Regions from separate parts of the Homo sapiens genome. Here region 2 is linked to region 1. Evidence: fine-mapped expression QTL. A gene starts in region 1. The other region holds a variant in brackets. All regions are shown on one strand. Distances are from middle to middle. Region 1 holds the start of CDC5L (cell division cycle 5 like). Region 2 holds the start of MIR4642 (microRNA 4642).

Evidence for each region.
Region 2: its variant is fine-mapped to the expression of CDC5L in whole blood (INTERVAL, PIP above 0.99). The same link has a PIP of 0.9 or more in lung.

What each region holds. Positions count from the first base shown.
Region 1 is chr6:44,382,655-44,391,859 of GRCh38, reverse strand. CDC5L (cell division cycle 5 like) reads right to left here and starts at 4,154. Exons shown (of 16, transcript NM_001253.4): 1 at 3,992-4,154; 2 at 1,489-1,592. The coding sequence starts at 4,036. It overlaps LOC124901323 (a long non-coding RNA gene), which reads left to right and starts at 3,941. Exons shown (of 4, transcript XR_007059595.1): 1 at 3,941-4,821; 2 at 5,691-5,810; 3 at 6,331-6,479; 4 at 6,749-7,298. RefSeq lists an enhancer at 4,073-4,272.
Region 2 is chr6:44,434,284-44,443,488 of GRCh38, reverse strand. All of the region lies in intron 14 of CDC5L (cell division cycle 5 like), which reads right to left. It overlaps MIR4642 (microRNA 4642), which reads right to left and starts at 7,848; the gene lies at 7,767-7,848. The variant C/T (reference allele first, on the strand shown) is at 4,757.

The DNA of each region.
Region 1 (9,205 bases):
AATTTTTGTACTTTTAGAAGAGACGGGGTTTTCACCATGTTGGCCAGGCTGGTCTCAAACTCCTGACCTCAGGTGATCCCAGCCTTGGCCTCCCGAAGTGCTAGGCTTACAGATGTGAGCCACCACGCCTGGCCAATTTCTACATTCTGATACTTTCCCCTAACCAGGTGCCTAGGAAATTAGGTCATTCTTATACAATCCAAAGTATTTTCCTAATGCCACATGACTTGGGGATGGTGCTAAATAACTCATGCCAAGAACACCCTAAATAGCTTCACGTGTCCACTACCCTATGATTTAAGAGGTGACACCAGCCGGGCGCGGTGGCTCACGCCTGTAATCCCAGCACTCTGGGAGGCCGAGGTGGATGGATCACGAGGTCAGGAGATCAAGACCATCCTGGCTAACACGGCGAAACTCCGTCTCTACTAAAAATACAAAAAATTAGCCGGGAATGGTGGCAGGAGCCTGTAGTCCCAGCTACTCAGGAGGCTATGGCAGAAGAATGGCGTGAACCCGGGAGGCAAAGCTTGCAGTGAGCTGAGATCACGCCACTGCACTCCAGCCTGGGCGACAGAGCAAGACTCCGTCCCAAAAAATAAAAATAAAAAAGAGGTGACACCACAGGTTCAGAGTTGGCTTATATCTTTTAATATATATAACATATTAAATATGTTTAATATATACAATATATAACATATTAAATATGTTTAATATATAATATATAACATATTAAATATGTTTAATATATAATATATAACATATTAAATGTTTAATATATAATATATAACATATTAAATATGTTTAATATATAATATATAACATATTAAATATGTTTAATATATAATATATAACATATTAAATATGTTTAATATATAATATATAACATATTAAATATGTTTAATATATAATATATAACATATTAAATATGTTTAATATATAATATATAACATTAAGTATGTTTAATATATAATATATAACATATTAACTATAAAATATATAATATTTCAACTGTATTATGAGGAAACTCAACTACTGTAGGCTTACTTAGAAAATTAGCCATTATTTATCATTTATTTCTTTGAGCAAGTAATTTCTAAAACAGCTAACTTATGCACTTTTAGAACACAATTAATTTACAAGCTGGGGCTCATCTGTCCCTGAAAGTAGACTTTGTATGCTTCACAAAGCACTCTCAAATACATTAACCCATTTAGATGACAACTCACATCTCTATCAGTCAGGACCAAGTATTATTATCCCTAATTGGGAGAAAACAAGGGCAGGGGAGAGGGATAGAAAAATGGCTTGCCTAAGACCACACAGGAAGCAAGTGACAGCTAAGTCAAACACCCAACTTCCATCTCCCACTCCATGCCTTGTTATATTACAATGTCTGCTTTCTTTGATAAGGTTCACAGAGTTGACATTTTCCATCATCATAATTAAGCTCCTTTTCTGTTTTCCACTTATTAAACTGATACATACCATCTGGCTTTGCACTGCTTTGCTGATTTTCTATGCAGCAATGAGGCAATCCTAGACCACTGATTTTTCCCATATTTCATTACCGCTGCTTTCAGAATTTCATCCTAAAAAAAATTGCCAAAGAGTACATTCAGTCACAAAACTCCAAGTGGGAAAAGACAAAATTTAAATTAACTCTGATAGGGCTATTGGAGAAAGAGACATATAACATGCACATACACACCACCTAGGTTAAAAGACTAAGGATGAAAACCTCATTAACTATAATAACAGCAACCAAGAATTGAGAAATTAAGAAGAAATCCCTTAGAAAGACAGCTACCCACCCTTACACCACACTCTCCAATAAATTGGGAGTGGGAACAGCCCAATCTGAGAAACCCTACTTTATGACAAAAATTAAGAAAAAGTATTCTTCAACGTGTGGCTGTCCTTCTCTTCAAAAAGGATAACTAAAAAACACAACAACAACAAAAATGTATAACTCATTCATTTATACACTCACTCAAAAAACACTTCCTGAACATCTACCTTGAAACATCTACCTTTCCCTTGGGGAAAGGTCTTATCAAACAGGACATATCCAGGCCTCAAGAAGCAAGTTGGGACTCTGGTGAATATATTCTCCAATCCAAGCCTCCTGTCTCAAGTTTATACATGGCATTTCCCCTCCAGCCCCTTAACCCCAACTATGACCCAAGAATCCACATCTCAGGTCTAACCTAAGAATTACATATTTCTACCCCAACCCCACTAGTCAGCTCTCCTTCCAATTTCCCCCCATCTCTAGATACCATTTCACCAGGGCACCCATTGCCATGTGGAATGCACCAACCTCAAGGAAGCCTGGCAAGCCAAGCCAAAGACAAGAAAGTTAATGGAGCCATAGATGCATGCACTTAGGCGATTTTACTTCTAGGCTTTTTTTCCCACATTGGATTTGAGGTACGTGCCTCTTGAGATACCCCACTCCATCCTCTACATCTCCCATGATCAAAGATACTTTTTAAAAAGACTGCAGAGCTTTGACCACTGCATAGGAATCCTACTGTTACTTGATTTTATATCTGTCTCTCCCTCAGAAGTCATCTCTTCTCCAATTTAAACAGTCTGGTTCCCTCGGTGGAAGCTGAGGCAGTTTTCATTGTCTTTTTTGTAACTTGGTTGCAGTACAACTACACTTAAACACATTTTCAATTAAATAGATACAGCAGATACCTACTCTACTTGATTCATTCTGCAAATACCTGTCGAGCAACCTACTTCATGTTGGTTACTGTCCTAGGTCCTAGGGATACCAAGACCTGGTCCTCTCGCCATGCTGTCTGGTGAGGTGAAAGAGCAACTAGCTCTTACTCAGAGGCTACTATGTGCCCTACTCTGATCTAAATATTCCAAACGTATTAACTCGTGTAATCCTCAAGAGAGGTTAAGTATTATTATCCCAATTTAGAAAAAGTAGAAAACTGAGGCTTTCAGAAGTTAAGAAACTTACCGAGTACCACACAGAGGATGTGATGCTTACAAAAAGACAAAGCAAGTTTTAACAAACGGAAGAAAAAGGTATCATGAGAATATCGGGGGTGCAATTAATTCTTACAGAGATTCCAAGAAGTGTTTCCGAACTAGGTTTGAAGGATGATCAGAAAGATGTCAAGCGCTAGGAAGGCAAAAGATGTAAAAAAAAAAAAAAAAAGAAGCCATAAAATGTAACGAAAAAAAGACACAGAGCATGAAAAGACATGATGTGCTCCAGAAACTGATAAATTCGGTACACTCTGAACACAAAACGCACTAAAATCTAATTTCTATTTCACTCCCACTCTACTGCCCTTTGGCTCACCAATGGCACTATCCACTACGTTTCTGGAAACAGAGACTATCCTAGGCCAGTTTTTCCTTTCTGGCTTCTATCTAGGCAAAGGCAGTGACAGAAAGAGACAGACCTTGGGATCTGTCGAGATGGCAGACAGGTTATGCCCTGATAACAGATAACCAGAGAGATGCGGGCATAAACGGGCTCTCTGAACCTGGCACTCAAACTGCTTCCCCTCTGCAAGGAAGTCAATGGAGACACAAAGTTGTGGCCACGGCAACTTCTTTATTTCTGAGTATGAGACAGAGTCGTGGTGCCTGGACTAAGAGTGGATGGTGCCCCGGGGGACCAACTCTGGCTGAGTTGGAACTCTGAGTTCTTCCCGGGGCCGGGGGGGGCGGGGGGGCGGGGTGGGAGGGGGCGTATTCAAGTCAACAAATGTTCACTCAGGGCCTAACAAGTGAGCTTGGAGCCGAGTAGCCAGGTGGTGACATCACGGTCCCTGTCCTACTGGCGCTCGCACAACACGGGGCCAGACACACGGAAAGGGCCCCAAGGGTCAGCCCCCGGGCTGCCCTCCACGCAGACCCCACAGGGTCTCCTCGTCGCCCCCCCGACCTCCGCGCGCGTGCGCACAAGCTGCTAGAGGGAGCGGCGGGCAGCGGACGGCGGGAAAAGGAGACTTACCTCGGTATTCCTCCATACGCCCCCCTTGATCATAATTCGAGGCATCTTGGCGGCAGGGTGTCTCGGCAAGCAGCCGAGAGGAGCTTCAGAGAAGTAGTAACAGCGATTGGGCCACCGGACTCAAAGCCGCCACTTCCTCCAAGCGCGACCTTCTGCTTTGAAGATCTGCGCAAGCGCAAGGTGGGAGGGGGCGCAGAATAGCAAGTCTCGCGAGATATTGGGTGGCTGAAAGGGAAAAAGTGTCTTGTGGAAGCTCAGCTGCAGGAAGACTAACACAAAACCATCAAACCACTCTGGCCAAAGCGCCTTACGCCCCGCGCATGTCCAAAACAGAATGGAAGAAACTACGGCTCTCGCGAGATAGCGGCGGTAGCGCTTGGCTGGGAACTTAGTGGTGGGATTGATCGTGACGTCACCGAGTGGCAGAGGGTGGGAACGTCACGCGTACGGAATTTCAGCACAGTTGCTCCGAAGAAGGCTTTGTTAATTTATTAATCTAGCCCTTTCAAGTATTTCAGTAATAGGAATTTATTCACAGAATACTCAGGAAAATCCAGTAGTTTATTTAAGGCTCAGTTTCCTAACCTGTAAAATAGAGATCATAGTAATGCCAACCTCACAGGATTGTCGTAAGGGCTAAATGAGATCATAGACCCAGCACAGTATCTGATCCATAATAACTGCTGCAAAACAATAGCAGCTATTACTGCAAGGAGGGCAACGCCAACTTCACCCCGTCCCCAGGTGATCCAGGCTTCTTCCAGAAACCTGCAGAAACGTCACGTCAGAGTTTTTAATTCATCGCCCAGTCTGGATTAATAATGCCATTGGTACGCACTGGTATTAGACAAAGTCGAGTTGGGTTGAAATATTGTGAAATCTTGGCTTTCTCATAAGTTTGGGTAATAACCTTACTGAATCTCAGTATCCTCATCTGAAAAGTGGAGCTAACAATACCCGCCTCGTAAATGAGGAGGCAGATTAACTGAAACATAACTAAAACCCAGTGAGGTAGGGATTGGCAAACTCTCTGCTACCCCACCCCAATTACTCATGCAGTCTCCTTCATCCTTCCAGAACATCTCTGGCTCCATCCCTGGAAAATATCAAAATATTTAGTGGGTTGGGAAATGCCCTATTTATAGTACTTAGTATTTATATAGTGCCTATCTCTTTATATTTCTTCATTTCTCCGTTTGCCTCTTCTGGAAGAGCTACAGAATTTTCTTTTTCCTTTTAGCTTTTATTTACACACATTCTGTGCAATTATGGTCAGCAAGAGGGCATTTTCCATGGCCACCCTGGTAGTGTTTGCCACTCAAAGGTTTATGCTGGCGGGCAGCCCGCCCTTGAGCTGTTTACCCACTGTGTGGTGTATAAGAAACCATTGGACCTGTGGCCAGTTAAACTCAAACAAAATGTTTTCATTTGGACCTCTCCTGTAATGGGGCGGTTTTTTTTTAATTTGTTATATTTAATTTTTGTGGGTACATAGTACACACATATTTATGGGGTACATGAGATATTTTGATACTGGCATACAACACATAATAATCACATCAGGGTAAATGGGGTATCCATCATCTCAAGTGTTTATCTTTTGTTTTACAAACAATCCAATTATAATCTTTTAGTTAATTTAAATGTACAATTAAATTATTTTTTACTATAGTCACCCTGTTGTGCTATCAAATACTAGGTCTTCGAGATTTTAACACTGGAGCATAGAGGAGGTCAGTCTCTACTGACTGCTGAACATCCAACACGTGACACCCAGGAGTTGTCTACCACCATGTTTTGGACTAAGGGAAAAAAGCAGGTAAAGAGAGAGATGTAAGTCCTGACCATGTCAGAGTACCTGGATCCAGCATGTTCCTGAGTCCCAGCTGCATTCCTGTCCTTGCATTCTGATTATTAGTTTCCTATTTGTGTTAGCCACTTGGAATTGGGTTTCTATTATTTGTAAGGAAGAGTCCTAACAATTCCAGAGATGGACCAATACTCTGTCAGAGGCCTTTCAGATCTCACATTCCAAGAGTTGATGAAGGCTTCTCCCTCCCACTCAGGGCCACCTCTTTACCATATGTTACTTTTGTGAGAACTAGAAAAAGGTGCCCCTTCCTCAAGACACTTTATGCCACATGCTGGAAAATTGTCACAAAATACTGGTGTTCTGAGAACAGGGCACTCTATTACAAGAAAATTGGATCTACCATCTCCACTATGTGAATTCCACCCCTAGAGACATGCATTGTACAACTTACTCATCCAGGTAAAACAGCCCTGTCAACTGTCCCTCATTTCACCTTTGAACATGCAGATTGTATATTCCCTTTCAGAATTCAGAAAAATGCAACATCATGGAAGTTCCAGGATGTCTGAAACCAGAGCACTGTAGCCACAAACATCAGAACACAAACACACTGTTCTCCAGGATGGCCTGCTTGGCCAGCCTCCCCCACCATACTACTGCAGCCTCACCAGCCAGGTATGGGAACCCTTACAAAGAGGCCACAGGGACTGCCAACAATCTCTTGAGGGACAGCCATAAGAAGCATCTATCGTTAGGCAACCAGACTATATGGTCAGTCACTGTGAATCTTTGGTAAAGTGAGTGGCCACTGCTAAATAGTCTCACTCACCCAAGGCATTTTTCCCCAAACATGTTCCTTAGAACACCAGTTACATAAAATACTCCATTTAAAAAAAAACAAAAAATAAAAAAAAACATGGTTTTTATGTCCTCCCCTCTTGCAGAGTCACTGAAATTAAAGCCTGTAAGAAGCTGTCAGATGAAAAAATCTGTTTCTCCCTGTTGAGAGTTGAATTGTATTCCCCCCAAATAGATATGTTCAAGTCCTAACCCCTGCTACCTGTAAATGTGACCTTATTTGGAAATAGAGTCTTTGCAGATGTAATCAAGTTAAAATGAGATCATACTGGAGTAGGTTGTCCCTAAATCCAATGAGTAGTGTCCTTATAAGTGGAGAAGAAAAAAGATACAGACACACAGGGGGAATATCATGGGAAGAAAGAGGCAGAGATTGGAGTGATGCAGCTCCAAGCCAAGGAATGCCAAGGATTCTGGCAGCCACCAGAAGCCAGGAGAAGGCATGGAACACATTCTCCCTCTGAGCCCCAAGAAGGAGCCAGCCCTGCTGACACTTTGATTTTGGACTCCCAGCCTCCAGAACTGTAAGAGAATACATTTCTCTTGTTTTAAGCCACTTAGTTTATTGTGCTTTCTTGTGGCAGCCCTAGGAAGCTAATACACTCCTTTGTTAATACAGCAGATCCTTGAATAACATCATTTTGTGCAAGATCGTTTCATGATAACATTGATGAGTCCAGGCATGGTGGCTCATGCCCGTAATTCCAACACTCGGGGAGGCCAAGGCAGGAGGATTGCTTGAGCCCAGGAGTTTGAGACCAGCCTGAGCAACATAGTGAGACCCCATCCCTACAAAAATATTAAAAATTAGCTGGGCATGGTGGTGCACACCTGTGATCCCAGCTACCCATGAGGCTGAGATGGGAGGATCACTTGAGCCTGGGTGGTCGAGGCTGCAGTGAGCCATGATCACACCACTGCACTCCACCCTGGGCGAGACCTCATCTCAAAAAAAAAAAAAAATCCGCTTGAGGCCAGGGCCACTGTCTGTGTGGGTTTCTTCCAGATACCCTGGTTTCCTCCCACATCCCAAAGCTGTGCAGGTGAGGTTCATTTGCAAGCCTGCAGTCTGAGTGAGTGTCAGGGTGTGTGAGTGTGCCCTGCAATGGGATGGTGTCCTGTGTGCTGTCCAGAACTGATTCCTGCCTTGTGCCAGGATAGGCTCCGGCCACCTGTAACCCTGAACTGGAATAAGCGGGAGTACATTTCTTGTTTTTATTAATCTTTCTTTTCTTTTCTTTTCTTTGAGACAGAGTCTCACTCTGTGCAGGCTGGAGTGCAGTGCCACAGTCTCGGGTCACTGCAGCCTTGACCCCCACCCCACTGGCTCAAGCAATCTTCCAACTTCAGCCTCCCGAGTAGCTGGGACTACAGGCGTGCACCCCCATGCCTGGCTAAGTTTTGTATTTTTTTGTAGAAATGGGGTTTCACCATGTTGCCCAGGCTGGTCTCAAACTCCTGAGCTCAAGTGATCTGCCCCCCTTGACCTCCCAAGGTGCTGAAATTACAGGTATGAGCCACCGTGCCCAGCCTAATCTTTCTTAAATGTATGCATAGCTTACACTTATTTCAATGTTTAATATTAGAAGTGTTTTGGTCTTTGTTTAGAAGTTCGTTGATGTTTTGTGACCAGAAATATGCCATAGAAACTTAACTCTTGTTTATATCAATTAGCCTATGGTAAAATTGATTACATGATACATCCTTTTGCTTAAAGTTGCAGTTTCCAAAAACCTAACAATGATAAAAATGAGGACTTACTATATAGCATTTCCAAACTAATTTGACCCTAAAAACCTTTTGTGTTATATATCCATTGACACTCAGGAAACACAATTTGGGAAACTCTGGCTCAGGAAAAAGAGGTTAGAAGTCCATCCAACTTACAAAGGGGAACCAGAGATGTTAGCAGGAGGATTTTTAGGTTGCATTGTCCCCATTTCCCTACCCCTCACCCCTCTCTGGGTAGCTGGTTCTGAATGGATTGACATTTACTTAGCAGAGAAAGTAATCAAAATTCTAGTTTCCCTTTCATCCAGTTTTTTCACCACCAAGAAACTATGCAGGAAAGGGCTAAAATTAGGGGCAAAAGCCTATGGCAACAGCAAGGCATAGTTTAGAGGCAGGATTAATGACTCTCACAATCTTCATCATCTCCCCAAATAAACATGCATAATAATTTAAATAAAAATACTGTCCTGCTTTGCAAATGCAGTCATGTGTCAATGACAGGGATACATTCTGAGAAACGCATCGTTAGGTGATTTCACTGTTGTGAGAACATCACAAAATGTACTCACACCAAATCTAGATGCAGTAGTCTATTACACACCTAGGCCATATGGTATATATAACCCTTTGCTCCTAGGCTACAAACCTGTACAGCATGTTACTGTACTGAATACCATAGGCAATTGTAACACAATGGCATTTGTGTATCTAAATACAGAAAAGGTACAGTAAAAACATTTATCAGTAAAATGTCTTCTAATAATTGTTAAAAGACATTTGCAAAACAATAAAAAATAAAGAAAAGATACAGT
Region 2 (9,205 bases), 52 kb before region 1:
GGAGAACAACTTATGCATTATCAGGTGCCAGAAGGAGAAAAGAACAACTAACATATTCAAATAAATAATGGCAGAAAAATTCCCAAGGCTGGGGAAGGAAATGGAAAGCTAGATCCAGGAAGCCCAAAAGACACCAAATAAGATAAATTCAAAGAGACCCACCAAGACACATCACAATTAAAATGTCAAAAACTAATGGCAGAGTATTGAAAACTGCAAGAAAAAAGCATATCACCATGTATAAAGGAACCTCCATAAGACTATCAGATAGCTTCTCAGCAGAAACCTTTCAGGCCAGAAGGGAGTGGGATGATATATTTAAAAATAGAAAAAAAAGAAAAGAAAAGAAAAGGAAGGAAGGAAAAGAAAAGAAAAGAAGGAAGGAAGGAAAAGAAAAGAAAGAGAGACAGGGACAGGACAGGGCAGGAGAGGAGAGAGAAGAAAGAAAAAGAAAGAGAAGAAAGAGAGAGAAAAAAAAACTGCCAACCAAGAATACTATACCCAGCAACCCTGTATTTCAAAACCAAATGGATGATAAAGACTTTTTCAATCAATAGCTAACTTTATCACCACTAGACCTGCATTACAGGAAATGCTAAAAGGAGTTCTTCAAGCTGAAGGAAGAGAACACTAATTAATAACATGAAAATTTATTAAAGTATAAAACTTTTTTTGTATATTTTGGATATTAACCCCTTATCCAGGCCAGGGCATGGTATATACATTGTCATATCCAAACATTCTAATACTCTAATGGCAGTGAGTAAATCAATTATATCTCTAGTATAAAGGTTAAAAGGCAAAACTATTAACAACTGAAGTGCAACAATTTGTTAAGGGAATAAATATTATATAAAAATTTTAAGTATAACATCAGAAATACAAAATATGGGAGAAAGGGGTGTAAAAGTGTATAGTTTGTGTATGCAATTAAAATTAAGTTGTTATCAACTTAAAATACCGTTATATAAGCTGTTTTATGTAAGCCTCAAGTTAACCACAAAGCAAAAGTCTGTAACAGACAGACAAGAGATAAAAAGATAAAATCCAAAGCATACCACTACAGAAAGCCATTAAGACACACACACACACACACACACACACACACACACAACATACACACACACACAAGCAAGAGAGGAGGAATAGAACAAAGGATCTATAAACAGAAAACAATTGGCACTGGTTAAGTCCTCACCTATCAATAATTACTCTGTAAATGGATTACATTCCCCAATCAAAAGGCATAGAGTAGGCCAGGCATGGCGGCTCATGCCTGTAATCCCAGCACTTTGGGAGGCTGAGGTGGGTCTATCATGAGATCAAGAGATCAATACCATTCTGGCCAACACAGTGAAATCCCGTCTCTACTAAAAATATAAAAATTAGCCGGGCATGGTAGCGGGCGCCTGTAGTCCCAGCTACTCGGGAGGCTGAGGCAGCAGAATAGCTTGAACCCAGGAGGTAGAGGTTGCAGTGAGCACAGATCGCACCACTGCACTCCAGCCTGGCGACAGAAGGAGGCTCTGTCTCAAAAAAAAAAAAAAAAAAAAAAAGAACAAGACCTTACAAAGTGCTGGGATTACAGGTGTGAGCCACCACTCCCGGCCTGGATAAGGGGTTAATATCCAAAATATACAAACAAACAAAAAAATTCAAACTACTCAATAAAAAACAAGTAACCCTATTTTTAAAATGGGGAAAGGACCTGAATAGACATTTCTCAAAAGACGACATACAAGTGGTCAACAGGTACATGAAAAAAATGCTTAACATCTCTAATCATCAGAGAAATGCAAATCAAAACCACAATAAGGTATTACCTTACACCTGTTAGACTGGTTATTTAAAAAAATGAAAAACAGTATGTGTTGGCAAGGGATGTGGAGAAAAGAGAACCCCTGTTCACTGTTGGTGGTATTGTAAATTAGTACAGCCATTATGGAAAACAGTATGGAGGTTCCTCAAAAAACTGAAAACAGAATTATCATTCAATCCAGCCATTCCACTTCTGGCTATACATATCCAAAGGAATTGAAATCAGTATGTCAAAGAGATGTCTGCACTTCCACGTTCTTTACAGCATTATCCACAACAGCCAAGACACGGATTTTTAAAATATGGTATACACATAAAACGGAATACTATTCAGTCTTTAAAAAACAGGAAATCCTGTTATTTGCAACAACAGATGGACACAGAGGACATTCTGCTAACTATGATAAGCCAGGCACAGAAAGCCAAATATCATATGATGTTAACTTGTATATGGAATCTAGAAATGTTAATCTCATAGAAGTAGAGAGTACAATGGTGGCTACCAGAGGATACTGGGGTAAAGGGTAGATAGGGAAAGGGGAGATGTTGGTCAAAGGTACAAAGTTTCAGTTAGACGGAAGAATAGGTTCTGGTGATCTATTACATAGCATGGTAATCACAGAATCATGTTTATTTCAAAATAGCTAAAAGAAGGGATTTTTAGGCTGGGCATGGTGGCTCACACCTGTAATCCCAACACTTTGGGAGGCTGAGGTGGATGGATCACTTGAGGTTAGGAGTTCACGACCAGCCTTGCCAAGATGGTGAAACGCCATCTCTATTAAAAATACAAAAATTAGCTAGGCAAGGTGGCACACGCCTGTAGTCCCAGCTACTCCAGAGGCTGAGGTGGGAGAATCGCTTGAACCCAGGAGGCAGAGGTTGCAGTGAACCTAGATCACACCACTGCACTCCAGCCTGGACAACACAGCAAGACTCCATAGCAAAAAAAAAAAAAAAAAGGATTTTAAATATTCTCTCCACAAAGAAGTGGTATGTATTTGAGGGGATTAATATGTTAATTAGCTGATTTAATCACTTCACATATGTGTATGGAAAAAATCACATCTTACTCCATAAACATATGCAATTATTATTTGTCAATTAAAATAGAACTTTTAAAAATATGGCCAGGTGCAGTGGCTCACAACTGTAATCCCAGCACTTTGGAAGGCCACGGTGGGCAGATCACCTGAGGTCAGGAGTTCGAGACCAGCCTGGCCAACATGACAAAACCCCCATCTCTACTAAAAATACAAAATTTAGCCAGGCATGGTGGTGCATACCTGTAGTCCCAGCTACTCGGGAGGCTGAGACAGGAGAATCACTTACACCCAGGAGGCGGAGGTTGCAATGAGCCAAGATCAGGCGACTGCACTCCAGCCTGAGCAACAGAGCAAGATTCCATCTCAAAAAAAAAAAAAAAAAGTCTAAGTCAAGCCCATGGGAGGTGGAGGCAGGCGAGTAACACTGCATGTTATGTGCCTTACAAACATGAGATGGATCTAAAATTAATTTAAATGAAGAAGCTCCTTTAAAACCATTCATTTCTTCAGATTTTTATAAAAGTTAAGCTTTTATTCCTCTGCAATTTACTTGAACAATAAATTCATGAAAACTGTTAATTTCCTTTATAAATGAACCTCTGATAAATCAAACCAAGTTCCATGGCAATGATTATATGTCTCCTAAGGGAGTTAGGATATACTGGTTGAAGGCAGGCAGTACAGTACAGCGGGGTAAGAGTGAGTCACTCTTACAACCCAGCATTGCTGCCCAGCTGTTTTGAGCTGATGCAAGTTATTTAACCTATGTGTCTCCATTTCTCCATCAGTAAAATGGCAGTCATTGCTACAAGTTGTTATGAAGCTTAAATAAGATCATAGACATAAAAAGCCTCAGCTGTCCAGTGCCTGGCACAGAATAAGCAGTCAACAAATGTCAGGTCTGATTACCATTATTATTTTCCAGATACTAAGAGTTCAAACATTTTGCTCTTTTCCCTAACAACTAAGGGAGTAAAAGGATGAGGCTTTAAAAGCTTCATTAAAATTCCAACTTCAATATAAGTCTATGTGGACCCTTTCCTGGAAACACAGCAAGGAAAAACAGCTGGTCCTTCTTTTAAGTGAGGAGTTTGCCCCTTGTGGACCACAAGACCAAACAACACACACTGGACCTCTGTCCTACAGTGTAAAAATAGCGTTAGAACATGGACTCGCGGTGCTTCCCAACTCTATGGGAAGATTTTCTAACCCTGAAGTTCAAATGAGGTGAAGGAAGTATCTAAGTAATTCCACTCCCAGTATTTCCCAAGAGAAATGAAAACATGTCCACACGAAAACCTGTACACGAATGTTCATAGCAACATTATTCATAATAGGTAAAAGTAGAAGCAACCCAAATATCCATCAACTGATAAATGGATAAATAAAATGTGGTATTATCCACACAATGGAATGGTACTCAGCCATAAAAACAAATACTAATATATACTACTACATGGATGAACTTTGAAAACATTATGTTAAGTAAAAGAAGCCCATCACAAAAGACCACATATTACATGATTCCACTTATGTGAAATATCCAAAATAGGCAAATCTATTGATACAAAAAGTAGATTAATGGTTTCCTAGGGGTGAGCAGGTTGGGGGGAATGAGGAGTAACTGCTGATACAGAATCTCTTTCTGAGGTGATGTAAATGTTCCAATAATGGTTGCACAACTATGTCAATTTACTAAAAGCCACTGAACTATACACTTTAAATTGTCTTAACTTTATGGTATGTAATTTATATCTCAGTAAGGATATTATAAAAATAAGGTATACAAGGAGTAGAAACATTACCTCCACAGGAGAAAAAAAAATTCCTCATCTTCAATTCTTCTGGATACAAAATGCAAAAATACTTTTCCCCAGAAATCAAAAGCAGTA[C/T]TTTCTAAGTTCTAGAAAGGCAGTAGTGGGATGGAGTTAGAGTTTAAAAAAAAAAAAAAAAAAAAAAGACAAAACTTCCACCACATAAATTTTACAACACCATCAAGGAAAGAAGACAATAATTTGTACTCACTCTCTTCCACTTCAAATATTTCTGGAGTATGTCTTTTTACGCCAGTGGTTTTCAACCACAGCTAAACTTCAGAATTGCCAGTGGAGTTTTTAAAATCTACCAGCACCAGTGCCCTAACTCCAGAGACTCTGATTTAAATGGTCTCAGATCTTTGTGTCCTTAAAAACTCCCAAATGATTCTAACAGGCAATTAGGATGTCAAACTCTGTTTCAGCCAGAGTCATTACACAAGCTAGGTATCAGTTGTTTTCTCAACTATATCTACCAAAAAGTCCTCATTTCCAATAAGATATGAACAACTAAATCCATCAAGTTACATTCAAGTTCCTTCTTCTATAATTTAACATGTTCAGCCAGGCAACAGTGGTTCACACCTGTAATCCTAGCACTTTGGGAGGCCAAGGCAGGTGGATCGCTTGAGCCCAGGAGTTCGAGACCAACCTGGACAATAGAGTGAAACACTGTCTCTCAAAAAATACAAAAATTAGCCAGACATAGTGGCACATGCCTGTGGTTCCAGCTACTTGGGAGACTGAGGCGGGAATCACCCAAGCCTGAGAGGTTGGAGGCAGCAGTGAGCCATGATCGCGCCACTGCACTCCAGCCTGGTCAACAGAGAAAGACCCTGTCTCCAAAAAAGTAAAACAATTCAGCATGTTCTAAGAATACCCATTATTACATACTCCAATCACATTTGGATTCAAACACACATTCCAAAACCTTAACAGCAAAGAATTTCAAATTAATACATATAATGCTTTTTAAAAATTAATCATACGAATTAACATTTTCATTGATAACTCAGCTATACACTATGCTCCATGGATAGTCCATTTCCAGTTTGGTTTTACAGCATAATACCTATACTCAGAAACTGCTTAATTAGTCATCAAGGTACGTTTAGTATTATCAGTACCCTGTATCTTGGAATTACCTCACCTCATCCAATGGAGTCATTTCTTATACTCAAACCATCAGAGATTTTAAAACTTCAAAGTTGTTAGCTTTCCTTTAATGCCAACAATTTTATTTCATTTAGCTCAAGCTTTGCAAGTCTTCTGGCTCAAATATTGCGCTAAGGTTCCAAGCAAATATGGACATAAATTGTACAAAAATTAACTTAAGCACAGAAAAAAATTAATTTAGCCAAATAACTATATAGTCATTAAACATATAAAGAAGAAATGGACTACAGCTTTTAATATTCAAGTTGAACTTAGTTATCTTACGCCTGTCATTTGATTATTAAAACACAAAGGAGGGTATCTGCATGCTTTGTAAAATGCTCAACCTATGACTGCTCAATATGCTTTAAGAGGAAAAATCCTAACCTACAGTTTCTGGTCTTTTTCAAGCCAATAAACCTCAAGCATGAAATGTACATGCATACAGGGACAGGACTAGCTTAAATCAGCCCAGCTCCTCCCAACACCCATCCACACACAGAAACAACACTGAGGTACAAGAGAGTATAAAACTTTATTTCCTAAAATTCAAAGAAAAAGGGAAAATCAGACTCAGATTTAACCAGTCAGATTTCTAAATTAATTTTTTAAAACAAGCACTAGCAACTGCCCTGATGGACACCTTACTTTAGAAGCCACCACACTGTGCTTTAAATATGTACTGACAAAAAATTTCTAATAGTCTTAAATAAAATGAAGTTCACTATCACTGATAGGAATTTAAAGTAGACCGACACTTGATACAATTAAAGCTGACTTGATCAAATATGAAAGGGTAAACTTCAATTCAAAGCAGGAAATTAAGAATATATCCACATACAAATCGGTAGGAAGGCCAAGCTGACAAATTTCACGCACCGTAATTCTATTTCATAATACGGTATCTAAAATTTGCTTCAAAATAATAGTGGAAGGGGGGATAACAGGGGAAACAAGAGTGGCTATGATTGATGACTGTCATAGCTGGGTGAGAATACATGAGGATTTATTATACCAGTATACTCTGGGGTACATTTGAAAATTCTTATAAGATTTTTTAAAAGTCAAATTCAATATTGTATCTACTCTAAAGGCTACTTTCTCAAGACCATACACCACAAATCATGAAACATCAATGTAGTGAAATATAATGAGACATTAAAATTTACAAATATGTCAACTATTTCAACACACCAAAATGTATACATGAAATGTTAGATTAAAATCCACGATGTAAAATCTATTTACGCTAACCAAAATCTGAGTTTTAAGCTTCACTCAGTACAACAATCTCTCTCCTAAAATCAGCCCATGTCTAAAACTTCAGACATTCCTCAAAATTTACAGAATATAAAAACTTAGCCACCCGATTGTTTAAAGTGAGGTTAGTTCCTAATACCTCATAGTATCAAACCAAGTATAATCCAATTTAGGTAACTCTAAGGGTGATATAGACTTGAAGACACATGGGAGGAGAATTCCCATTTACTAACACCTGCTATTTGCTAATCATACAGTATCTCATTTAATCTTATATTATCTCAAACTCATGCTTCCATCAAATAAAAACAATTACTCGGCTGGGCACGGTGGCTCACACCTGTAATCCCAGCACTTTGGGAGGCCAAGGTGGGTGGATCACTTGAGGTCAGGAGTTCAAGACCAGCCTGACCCATGGTGAAACCCGTCTCTACTAAAATACAAAAATTAGCCGAGCGTGGTGGCAGGCACCTGTAATCTCAGCTACTTGGGAGGCTGAGGCAAGAGAATTGCTTGAACCCTGGAGGCAGAGGTTGCAGCGAGCCAAGATCGTGCCATTGCACTCAGCCTGGGCAACAGGAACAAAATTCCATCTCAAAAAAAAAAAACAAAAACTATTACTCACCCAATTTTACAGATAAGGAAATGTGAGACCCAGAGAGGTTAAGTAGGGCACAACTGCTGGCATCATCACTGAGTGGCTTTGTGGCTTGCCCTAGGCCACAGCCACCAGGGGACGATGCCATGCAGTTGTGCCCTATTTGAAAGTCCAATACACTGGTCACACCACTGCTAATAAACTGACTGTCCCCCTCCTTGGCTCAGCCCCCTGAAATGCAAACATGCCTGAAAAAATTTAAGCTGTGGAAATGAATGGCTTAAATTTCACCAGACAGCTCCCTGAAAAATAAATTATTCTAGACACATGTAAACAAGAAATAAGACCTTAATTAGCAATTCTGCCCATCATTCTTACCCTGATTTAGACTCTCACCTACATGTACCCACTTATAAGAATTTTGACACCTGAGAAAAGCTTTTACTTTCCTCAGTTTGTATTTTAAAATTCTAAATTCTTTTATTAACAAGCTATAAAACTATAAGAAAACAAATATCTCTCAAAAAAATTATACAGAAAAAAAGGTTCCACTTACCACCTTTTTAGAAGTAGGGTGGAATATAACTAGTGTTTAATCATATTTACAACTATTAAATGAAAAATGTAGAATATGATCCCAGTTTAGTTTTAAACACCTTCATCCAAACATTTAAAAAAAAAAAAAAGATATATGGGAGTATGTGGGGGCAGGGGGGGCGGGGTGCATATATACACCACAATGTTTAAGGTGATTATGTCTGGATAGTAGGTTCCTTTTCTTATGTTTTCTACTTCTTTTAAAACTTCTACAAAGCACAGGTATTATTTATAGAAAGACGCCTAGAAATGTTATTTTTTTAAATGCATAGAAGAGAAACTGTCTAAAAAAGACTGGCCAGAGACCAATGGAAAACTGATGGTCCCCAGGAGATGAATCAGTGGAACCATAAGTGTTTCCTCGGGTCATTACAAAAGGGAGCTGTATGGGACTTATGAAAGTGTAACTGTTACTTTCAAGCTAAGTTTGTTAAGGTTACTAAGCTTAAGTAATTCCAAAATAAACACATTATCCTTGGGTCTCCAATACTGTCTTCAGTAAAAGTCCGTTACAGTGAGGTTCAGAAACATTAAGAGCACCCCTCACTGAAACTCTTGCTTGGGGGCCCAGAATATAACCTTATACCACTGGAAAAACAGGTTTAAGGATACCCAAAATAAACAGGCAGTCAATGGGAGCTCCACTTCCCAGTCCATCAATCAGCAATATGATCCCATATAATAGTCAAGATGTGGTTCAATCACCAAAACATTTGCAAACAACAGGAGTCTATGAGTGATTCTCCTTTAATCTCTATACCAATTACCAGCATTTTTATCAGTGAACCTTCTCTACTCTGATGAGACGCAGGTCCAAGAAAGTAATTATTGTTTGCATCTATGAGTTAGCAACCATCAGATTGCATCCCTGAAAAGCATGCTAACCAGGAAGGCAAAACCTTACTAAAAACCTTTAT